Linked DNA regions of Homo sapiens. The protein of the gene in region 2 purifies or fractionates together with the protein of the main gene of each other region. This does not show direct contact. Each region holds a gene or a part of one and is shown on either strand. Other genes may lie near its edges. The genes, in order: C17orf75, AIFM1 and APOOL.

Region 1 (3,752 bases), on a different chromosome or scaffold from region 2:
TTAAGGACTGGGGAAAGCTGTCCTTATGACCCCTATTGGTGAGGCTTCTAGGAATGTATGTCACTAAGTATGATCTACCTCATCAAATAGCTTAAAATATTCCTATCTTTCCAGCTCATTCTCTCCAGTACTGTGACTCCACTGGAACCCCCAATCCACTGACCCTACCTCTTTTTCAGTCTCTCAAGTTTCTCATCTCACTTCCCTCCTTATTCTGCCTTAATTCCATGGTCAGTCATTATAATCACACCCCTGCACACATTCTTATCTTTTTTATCTTTCAACTTTATTGAGGTATAATTGATGATTTAAAAATTTCAGGGCTGGGGCCGGGAGCAGTGGCTCACGCCTGTAATCTCAGCACTTTGGGAGGCCGAGGCAGGTGGACCACAAGGTCAAGAGATAGAGATCATCCTGGCTAACACAGTGAAACCCCGTCTCTACTAAAAAAAAATACAAAAAAATTAGCCGGGCGTGGTGGTGGGTGCCTGTAGTCCTAGCTACTCGGGAGGCTGAGGCAGGAGAATGGCGTGAACCCGGGAGGCAGAGCTTGCAGTGAGCTGAGATCGCACCACTGCACTCCAGACTGGGCAACAGAGGGAGACTCTGTCTCAAAAAAAAAAAAAAATTTTTCAGGGCTGGGCAAGGTGGCTCATGCCTGTAATCCCAACACTTTGCGAGGCAGAAGTGGGCGGATCACTTGAGTCCAGGAGTTCAAGACCAGCCTGGGCAACATGGTGAAACCCCATCTCTACCAGAAATACAAAAATTAGCCAGGCGTGGTGGTCAGTAGTCCCAGCTACTGGGGAGGCTGAGGTGAGAGGATCACCTGAGGCCGGGGAGGTTGACGCTGCAGCGAGCCAAAGTCATGCCACTGCACTCCAGCCTGGGCAGCAGAGCAAGACCCTGTCTCAATTTAAAAGGAAAAAGAAAAAAAAAGGATTTCTTTTTGGCTAATCACCAAGCACACTATCAGTATGTGGATTTGTTTGCCCCAGCCTTGAATGAACCAGCCAATGAGGAAATCAGGATGAGGTTCCTAGGGGATAGGAGGAATTGACGGTTTGACTCAGGGAAAGCTCAGTGGAAATAGAGTATCCACTGACATGTACAGGCCAGAGATGCAGGGAAGATGAAAGCACATGCATGAATTATGCTGAAGCTCTTTTTACCTGAAATCATCACCAGAGGGAGTTTCTGCATTTGTGCCACTTGGGCTTCCGTCCTCACTGTCCCCTCGTTGCTGTGCCAATCTACAAGCCACAAAACCAATAGTGCTATCAATTATGGGCTCTAAACCAAGAGGAGTATGGGGGCCTGGCAAGCAGGGTAAGGCAAGGAGTCAACTAAAAATGCTGCAAGGTGGAAGTGCACTGCCTATCCTCATGACAAGGAAAACCCATACAGCAGTGCTGACAAGAGCCCCTTCTCTCTCCAGGCCACTTAACGGGTGGAGGAAAGGCTAAATACCCAGAAGGTTCAAGGAAACTCCTTTAAAAACCAAACTTGACAAGGCCAAGAAGGTTCCAGGAAAGTCAGAAGGAGGAAAAAGAGGAATCAAGAACAGAGGAAAACCAGAGGGTGGGGATGGGGGTGTGTGTGACAGAAATGGGAGAAGTGGGGAGATAATGACAGAAAGGAGAGGGGACGGGAACTGAAATTATTGAGCATGCGGGGCACTGCGCTAAACAAAGGGCAGCCGCGAGAGTAAGAGGCTGGGATGATATAGGGGCAGATGAAGGGCACAGGCATGGTTGGGCCAGGCATACAAGTCCACGACGGGGGCCAGGAAGAGCAGCGGGAGGCGAGGAGCGCCCTTCAGGCCAGAGACCTTGGCTGGGAGAGGAGAAGATGGCTTTTAGGAGCGGCCGGGCCGCTGGGCCGGGGGTGGGGTGCAAGGCCGGGCGGCGGGCCGGGGGCGGGGCCGCAGGGGCGGGCGGGCTGGCAGGCCGAGCTGGGCGCCAGCACCTGCTTCCGCGATAGCTGTAAAGACAGTAGTGGCTGCTGGACGGCGGCTCGAGTCTCCGCTCCTCGGCTGAGCCTCCCTCTTCGCTGCTCTCTAGTTCCTTTTCATCTCCATCCATCGACTCCTGCAAAGAGGGGAGCATTGCGGCGGCCTCTGAGCGGCCCTGTGTCTCCGCCAAACCGCTCCCCTGCTCCCGTGCAGCCGTCGGTATCAGGGCTCGTCCGGCTCCCGGCCCTCGCACACCTGCGTTCCGCTGGTTTCCCCGGGTTCGCAGGCAAGGACTGGCCTGGAAAGGGAGTCTCTTCTCCCCACAGGGGCTGACAGGCGTACTGAGTTCGCCTTTACTGACAAGCTTTTACCATTTATTTTGAACTTATTTTCCTTTGAGACATCTGGGAAACTTTCTATGTGATAAAGGTGGCACAACTACCTAGCCACATGGAAAAGAATAAGGCTACTCGTCTGCCTCCTTGCGCGCGTGCCAGCACGCACAGACACCCGTTTGATCAAAAAGTTAAGAATTTAAAATGAATTTTGTTAAAGTGAAAATATGGGATAATTTTGTTAATTCTTGAAGAGGGTCTTTCCAAACATAACAAAACACTTAGAAGTCATACAGGAAAACGTTTAAAAAAATGACTACGTAAAAACTAAAAGGCCGGGCACGGTGGCTCACGCCTGTAATTCCAGTGCTTTGGGAGACCGACGCAGGCGGATCACTTGAGGTCAGAAGTTCAAGACCAGCCTGGGCAACATGGTGAAACTGTGTCTCTACTAAAAGTACAAAAAAATTAGCCACGTGTGGTGGTTCACGCCTGTAATGCCAGCTACCCTTCCAGTCTCTGCCCATTACCCAGTTCTAACACCAATTCACATTTTCAGGTGTTTGTTTCTGCAACACCCCATTCTCTGGTACCAGTTTTCTGTCTCAGTCCATTTTATGATGCTATAAAAGGATACCAAAGACTGGGCAATTTATAATTAGCTCTTAAAGGCCCCACTTCTTAATAGTCTTACAATGGCAATTACATTTCAACATGAATTTGGGAGTGGACAAACACTCAAACCATAGCGCCACGTGAAGGAGGAGGCAGACTGGAGTGATGTATCTACAAACCAAGGAATGTCAAGGATTGATGGTCATCACCAGAAGCTAGGAGAGGACATGGAACAGATTCTCCCCTAGAGGCTTCAAGAGAGTATGTCCCCACCAGCACCTCCATGTCAACTTCCAGCCTCCAGAACTGTGAAATAATACATTTCCATTGTTTTAAGCCACCGTGTGTGTGTGCATGCGTGTGTTTTGTGTTTTTTTTTTTTATTTTTAGTAGTGCAAACTTTATTCATAAATAAAACTTCATAAAGTTAAAAGCAGGGGCAGTTCCTATTTTTAAAAAGGAATAGTGGAAGGCAACCTGCCATTTCATTTAAAATTACAAGTTAGGTTTTTCAGATGGATAACAGTTGAGATCGTTAAATCCCCTTCCTGCTTCTCAGATTTTCACAAAATAGCACATTAAATCCTCAGTCCTAAGCAATTATGGCAGAGATTCCAAATTGCCTCTCCATATCAAAGTGGATAGCACAGTTTCTTCTCTTGCAATAAAGGTACTCATTTGATGAACAAGTGAGTATAGCAGTCAGATTCTTAAAAGATTGTATTGCAGAAGTTACTGCCATGTCTTCATTCGCAATGGGTATCCTCACCTCTATCTCCCATTCAGTAACATTGTCAGTTTCCTTATCTCTCATTTCAACTACATTTAAAAGAGGATTCTGATTGCGG
Region 2 (3,752 bases):
GCCTTCAAACAAAGACATGCAGTGGAAAAAACCATTTGAGTCTGTATTTTTCAGTAGTTCTAACAACACCAACCACTTTCCAATGTCTAATAAATCAACTTAACTTTGCAAATGCATATTTAATTGATGAGAACTTTTGGTCAGACTTTAGAATGCTGGTAAAAGTTGTGAGACTTAAGCAAAACAACTACTCAAAGTTTGAAAGGCCAGTGTGGATGAAAAAATTCAGGTTATCGCCGGGCGCGGTGGCTCACGCCTGTAATCCCAGCGCTTTGGGAGGCCGAGGTGGGCGGATCACGAGGTCAGGAGATCGAGACCATCCTGGTTAACATGGTGAAACCTTGTCTCTACTAAAAATACAAAAAAAAAAAAAAAAAAATTAGCCGGGCGTGGTGGCGGGTGCCTGTAGTCCCAGCTACTCTGGAGGCTGAGGCAGAAGAATGGCGTGAATCCGGGAGGCGGAGATTGCAGTGAGCCGAGATCGCGCCACTGCACTCCAGCCTGGGCGACAAAGCGAGACTCCGTCTCAAAAAAAAAAAAAAAAAAAATTCAGGTTATCTCAATTTCTGTGCAACAAGCACAGAGCACCATCATTTCAATACACAAAACCCTCAAAGATGACATCCATTGATAAGGCATTAGTTTAAAAGCTAAGCAGAGGTTTTAAGTTCCAAGAGCAGTATGTCCCAGGACATAACTCAAATACACCTATCAGGAAACATTTTCATTGTGCATAGCAACTGGAAAAACTGTTCAAATGCACATTTGCAAAGACCCTAACAACCCAAGGAAAATATTTTCCACTTTTTATTTTTAAAGCACCCAGGTGTTTCTGTATTGTAAAAGCCTCAAGGATAACTTCTGACATTGCAAATGCCCTAGGGGTGGACATTGAAGGATTACTGATTTTTTTTTCAAAGCAACTCCTACAGGTGGATCATTCATTGCCCCCATGAAGTAACGCAGTACGAAAAGAAGCAGGCTCAAGCCATGCTCAGATAAATTCACGGATATCTGATGTACAATGGGCTAATTACTGGGAAGAGACCCGAATTCATTCTTAACTTTTTGAGGTCAACTTTAGGAAGCAGTATGGAGTTGCAGCGAAGGGATTAAGGACCTGGAGGCTAGCAAACTATCCTTAGCTCTACCTATTAATTAACTATGTGACCTTTGGCAAGTAATTTCACCTCTCTGTGCCTCAGTTTATTATCTATAAAATGAGTGGGTTGACCTTTACCACAAAATCCCTTCCAGCTCTAAAATTTGATGAAACAACTTAATGGAGAACAAAATACAATGCGTTCTGCAAACTGTTTCTTTGAAGCCTTAAAGACCACCAAGAAGTACACGGCTCAGGCATCTCCAATTAAGTCTGGGCCAATTCTCTGGGTGTCTGGTACACAACCAACCGACTCCTTACTTGCCCTGCACCGTTTCTGTTTCACTGGGCATTCAAATCCATGGATCTCATCTGTGGTTTGGAAGGCTGAGCAGATAACACCCTCATTTACACAAGAAACTTAGGCGTAGGGCTTAAACGTCCTGTTTAAAGTCTCAATCGGTAAATGACAAAGTCTACTTGACCTCATTGCTCTAAAAAGGGGGGTGGGGGGTGGGGATGCCGGGGAGGCGCCGACAGCCAGTTGTTCTGGGATCCCTGAACAGCAAACGCTCCCGGGAAAAGGCCTCAAGCCGACTACTGGGTTCAAATCTCTTGAAGGTCAGGTCGGCATGGCTGAGCCAATTCCTCCGCTTGCAAGACTCAGGGTTCGGAGTCTGCCAATTTGGAATTCACGTGACTATGTGTTAAGTTTCTCGCGGGGACGCGGGGGTAGAGGGCTGCAAGGCACAGGGAGCCTAAGGCGCCAGGCCCTCGGACTTGGAGGTTGCCTGGAATGGGTCAGTCACCTGGGAGCCGGTTCCTCTGCCTCGGGCTTCGGACGCACACGGTCCGCACCAAGGGCACCAGCTTCTGCTTCAAAGCACCCGCCGCCAGGCCTCCACACCGGAACATTTCGGCGACCGCTATTCGGGACCTCCTCCTTCCCTTTCCTCTCACGCACGACCGACGGGTCAAACACCGTGAGCCCCGGCCAGCTCCCCCAGTCTCTTCACACGCACATTACGCAGACTCCTCCTCCCAGCTCCGGGTGGGCATTGGACAGAGAAGCCGGCCTGCTAGAGCCGGGGAAGGGGAACGGCGACCGGAGGCCTACTGCGCAGGCGTAGCACTCGCTGCCGCATTGCGATTGGTCCGCACGGCGAGAGGATTTGCGCATGCACTAGCTGGCCGCAAGCTCGCAAAGACGCTGGCTCTAGGTAGCCGGTTTTCGCGAGTTTGTGGCACAGTGTTGGACTGAACGAGTTAAGGAACCTGTTCAAGGAGGGACTCGTGGGGCCGCTTTGATTGGCGGTTGTGCCTGGTGCTGCCGCTGTGTTGGTGACGAGAACTGATAACAGCATCTCACAACAGCGTAGCCCCGGCATCGCACTTTGTTTTTTGGTTTTAGGACACCAGTTACTTGATACCGAAGCCTTCCTGATTCTTTTGCAGTGATCCAGATCCAGTTTTTCCATGAGTCCGAGGCGCGGAACCTGGCTTCCCAGATCCGGCGTGTACTTCCATCTTTTACCAGTTGCCGGCTCTTTCCCACCCAACCCGTTTCCTGGACAAGTAATTCTGCGCTCTTCTTCCCGCCTGTCACCTTTATTTATTAGTTCAGTTGTGTGTCCTAGATGCTGTATACCAGGTGCTACAGATACACACAGTCTCCTGCTGTGGTTTCTGTGCTTGGGAGCAGGATGTTAGCAAAAAGCGTTCGTGCTTCTCGGACTTTCTGGGAAGAGAAGTCTGCTAAGCAGAACTTTCAGTTATGGGAGTAGGGTGAGGGGCTGAGTGTAAATAAGTGTTTTGACTCTGCCAGATATAAGCTAAATTGGAAATAATGTTTTGGCTGCATGCAGAACATACAATGTGCCTGTTTCAAAGATTCAGCTTACATATTCATTTAACAAGTATTTATTGAGCACTTACCTCTTGGATTGTACTATAAAAGGGGCTCTGTTGGGTATGAAAAGTACGGATGGTCCCCGACTTACCCCTCACAATGGTTCGACTTACAATTTTTCGACTTTATGATGGGTTTAATGAGACCTAACCCCATGTCAGTCGAGGAGCATCTGGACTTAAGCATGGTTCAACTTACGGTTTTTTGACTTTATGATGGGTTTATCAGGGTATTAAATGCAGTTTCGACTTAACGATATTTTCAGTTTACAATGGGTTTATTTGGACATAGCATCTATATAGGAAGTGGCCACTGTCTAGTTGGGGAGATGACATATACCGGTCATTGAAATAATATCTGGTGTAGTGCCGGACAGAGCAAGAGAGAAGACTATGGGATGGAATCACTATGGTAGAACTTCGTGTAAGAAGTTATTTGAGTTGTGTCTTGAAGGATGAGTAGTAAAATTCAAACAGTAGAGGAAAAGGATTGATATTTCAGATGGTGAATACTTTCGGACCAAAGATAACATTTTTCATTGTTAAACATGTTGACCTTGGATCCAGACCAACCCACATTGAATCCTGGCTCTGCCACCTGGGCAAGTCACTTAATTGTGCCTCATTTTCCTCATCTACAAATCTCAGGAGGGTGTTCGGAAGACTAAATGAGCTAATATTTGTAAAGTGTCTTAGAGGAAGCACCATGCTGTTTGTTAAATGAAAAGGCTTGGAACTGTTT
Region 3 (3,652 bases), about 45 Mb from region 2:
CAGTAAGCTATTGGGCAAAGTAGAATACACGTGACTTTAATGCTTAGCCTTCAATCAGCAATATCCATCAGCAGAGTGGTGGAGTAAGCTGATGCAACACTAATGTTTCATTATCATCACATAAACATCATTGTGTTAGCATCTCCAGTGTCAGTATCTTAATGTTGGTACCAGTGTTTTCATCATTCTAACCTAGTAACCATGCGACTTTTCCCCAAATATAGCCTGATGGTGAATCATTGTTCTTTTTAGTTTCTATCCATTATCTTTAAAAAGAAATCTAATGAACTTATGAAAAATAATTTGTGCTTAGGTGAAATACCAAATCAATGAACTCTGGTAATTCCAGATAATATTTCAAATATCTGATAAGTACATGATGTTATTTTTGAAAACTTGTGTTTGTCATACAATTCTTATGGTACTAGTTGTACTACACACTATTAATAGTTTGATCTAAGAGGGAAATACCTTAACCAATTATGGTCTGAATCATGCCCCTATGACTATGTGCCAATAGCTAGATGATTCAGACTTAAGCCTCCTGAGATGTAATTTTCCATAATGTTCTGAAATTTTTCTTCAGTGAGATAAAATGTTCCTGAGAGGTCTTTAAATTGCTATTGTAACTGTCATCCAATTTAAGATTCAAAAGAATGTTTTATTCCATTAATATGCTCAAACAAATAGGTTGAAGAAAGGCAATTTCCAGTGCATTTTGTCCTAAATGTAAACAATTTTTTTTCCTAATTTTCCCCTAAAAATGTAATCCATTCTTTAAAAATTATGTCTGACTCAAATTCGTTCCACATTAAAGCTTGAATCATGTAGAGCAAATTCAATTTCTACTCCTGCTAGCTTAGTGTTTTGAAATTTAGGTAGCACTGACCCCATGTGGTAAAAATGAATTCCTTAGCAGAGCTAAGAAAAATTTTTTTTGAAAGATGACTAATTTTCTTCCTTAATGGTTAAATGATTCCCAATCGACTGGTCAATAGGTATTTTAACTTTGAAGGTGAAATATTCTCAAGACAGTCCCTACAGAAAAGTAGTTCAATAGCAGTTAGCGTTTATGCTGATTTGTACAATTTTAAACCAAGATGAACCTCTGCATCTCTCTGATAACCATTAAAATATGTAAGACAAAATTACAAAACCAAGCTATCTCTATAACAAAAACTTATTTCTTCCCTGTCCAATATAATAATATCTGTTTTCTCTGCTTTGAAAGTCTCTTTTGTTCTTGTTTTTATCCCATGGTTTCATAGCAGCTAGTTCAGAGAAGGATTGTGTTTTCTGGTTCCATCAACAGAGTACAATATGACCACGAGTAAATCATTTTGTGACTTCCTTTTTTTTCTTATCTAAGTGAGGTAATACCTAGCACTCAATAAATATATTTAACACTCTTTTGCACTAAAATAAATCAGTTAGAAACAGGTAAAGTTAAAGATTTGCTTTAAAACTTTAATTCCTCTGATGTATTAACATAGTTTTGATTTCTAGAGAATTTATGTTCCGATTTAAAAACAGGATAAACACTGGTCTATGTAGGATGATTTCTGTCCTGAGGTAATTTAGATTTTTTTCTCATTCTAATGCACACTAAGAAAAGGGAGGAAGATGAAGCCCTTTGCTTTAGGCTTTTTGCTCTTTTTTTCCCTCCACAAATCATTATGTTGTTGCTATTGCAACTTTATTAATCAGATGTTGCTTCTAAACTGAAATATACCTCCCTTCTTCTTTATTTAAATTCCATTTATTTTTCTAGGTCATTATAAAATAAGATGATAAATATTTTTTTCAGTATCATTTCTGCTCTGATTATTTCATAGGCACATTATCCATTTATATGAGAAAAATGATATAAATGTTATCCATGTTAAATAGAATGAAAAGCAGGAAATGAAAACAAGCTGGTAGTGAATACATAGGAAAGCTGGATTTAGATTTGGGCATAATGTTAAGTCAACCTTTTAATATAATCTCAGAGATGCAGGCAATTTTATCTCATTATCAACAGCTTCAAAAATGCAGATGTCTTCCCCCCCTTTTTTTTTGCTTAGGGTGTTTATGTCTTTGTGAAAAATGGGATAATGGATACAGTACAATTTGGAAAAGGTAGGTGAGTAGATAATTAGAAATGTTTTATTGTGTTTTTAAATTGCATTGTTTAAATGTGAGAAAAATAAACTTGGTATGTTACCCATTATCATGCATTTACCAACTCAGAAGGTACTCTCTATAGCAATTTATTGATTAATTTATTGATTATTTGTTGATTATTGATTAATAGCAAAGCAGTAATATTCATTATTCAGCAGTTATTATTGGCTAAGGTGTTGTACTTAGCATTTTACATAATTTTTGTCACAATTATGTTAGTATTGGTATTATAATTATTCCCATTTTACAGATGAGGGCAACTGAGGTTTAGGAAGGTTAAGTAGGTTATCGAGCTTACGTAACTGTAAGTGGTAGTGCCAGGATACAAACTGAGGTCTGTTTTAACTACAAAGTCTATATTATATATCATAAAGCATAAATTAAAAACATGTCTCCATTGTTGCTAATTAGTTTAAGTGCTACTTGCTGTTAAAATACATTGTATTTTGCTGTCAATTGCTAGGAAATGTTATAGCAATCACTAACCCTGGAATATTTAAGCTAATGGTTAAAAAGCAATTATACTTGACTCTTTAGCTTGTTAATGGTGTTTGGCAACAGATATAGCTTTGTAATATTCTTGGCTTATGCCAGTTGTCATAATAAATATGTATAGGAGATAGAAAGATGAGCTAAAATGTTGAATGTTTCCATGAAGTTGATGACCTGTATTTGAATTGTCATTATTTAATGTATTAGGAATAAATTCAAAATTATATTCCTCATCAATCATGAGGAATAGGATTAAATATGTGATTGCCATTAAATAATTAACTATGATAGAAAAGTGTACTTTTGGAACCAGAAACAAATTCAACATATAGAAAGCCAAGAACTACTCTTCATCTACTTTTTGTCTAGGCTCACTGATGATTGACTTTAACCAACAGCAGTGGCTGTCCTGAGGTTATTAGGGAGTAGTGGCAAGCAAGGTCTAGTAGCTGTGTATATCCTTAAACTATTATTCAAAACTCCTTAATAAAGTATCTATTTCATTTCTTATTGGAGGCTACCAGTGTTTGAACAGATAAGGGCAGAAGTTCATCATAGAGATATAATACATACGCAGTCAGAAATTTACCTTATAGTAACCCATATTAAGATGTGCCCTCTAGCATTACATTTCTTTATAGTAATAACCGTCAGTATCATTAGGAAAAGAAATATTAAATCAGCTACGGAAGGAAAATTTTATTTTGTAACAAGTAAATATATCTAGTTTTTTAGCTTGCTACTCATATTGTCATTATATGTAGCTCTTTTGAAGAATATTTAAACCTCATTATTATCTTAGCAAATCTCTTTAACCTTCCTGCATTATAACTGTATAGAATATCCAGTAGAATTCAGTTATTCATGTTAATTTTTAACTGATTTCTTGAGATGCTTATGTCTATCTGAAGAATCCTCCTCGAGATTTTCTTCCGAAAATGGGAGTTATTACAGTTTCAGGATTGGCGGGCTTGGTTTCAGCGAGAAAAGGTAG

What was found.
Region 1: the proteins of AIFM1 (region 2) and C17orf75 purify together in Homo sapiens (affinity purification with mass spectrometry; 2 studies listed by BioGRID and IntAct, with this or other methods). This does not show direct contact.
Region 3: the proteins of AIFM1 (region 2) and APOOL purify together in Homo sapiens (affinity purification with mass spectrometry; 2 studies listed by BioGRID and IntAct, with this or other methods). This does not show direct contact.

Annotation. Positions count from the first base shown.
Region 1 is NC_000017.11:32,340,032-32,343,783, forward strand, and holds the start of C17orf75 (protein Njmu-R1), read right to left. Parts: upstream 2,143-3,752; 5' UTR 2,109-2,142; coding exon 1,969-2,108; intron 1,923-1,968; exon of another isoform or gene 1,770-1,922; intron 1,254-1,769; coding exon 1,173-1,253; intron 1-1,172. UniProt on the Homo sapiens protein: As component of the WDR11 complex acts together with TBC1D23 to facilitate the golgin-mediated capture of vesicles generated using AP-1. May have a role in spermatogenesis.
Region 2 is NC_000023.11:130,163,640-130,167,391, forward strand, and holds the start of AIFM1 (apoptosis-inducing factor 1, mitochondrial isoform AIF precursor), read right to left. Parts: upstream 2,203-3,752; 5' UTR 2,018-2,202; coding exon 1,912-2,017; intron 1-1,911. UniProt on the Homo sapiens protein: Functions both as NADH oxidoreductase and as regulator of apoptosis.
Region 3 is NC_000023.11:85,052,278-85,055,929, forward strand, and holds part of APOOL (MICOS complex subunit MIC27 precursor), read left to right. Parts: intron 1-2,066; coding exon 2,067-2,121; intron 2,122-3,549; coding exon 3,550-3,648; intron 3,649-3,652. UniProt on the Homo sapiens protein: Component of the MICOS complex, a large protein complex of the mitochondrial inner membrane that plays crucial roles in the maintenance of crista junctions, inner membrane architecture, and formation of contact sites to the outer membrane.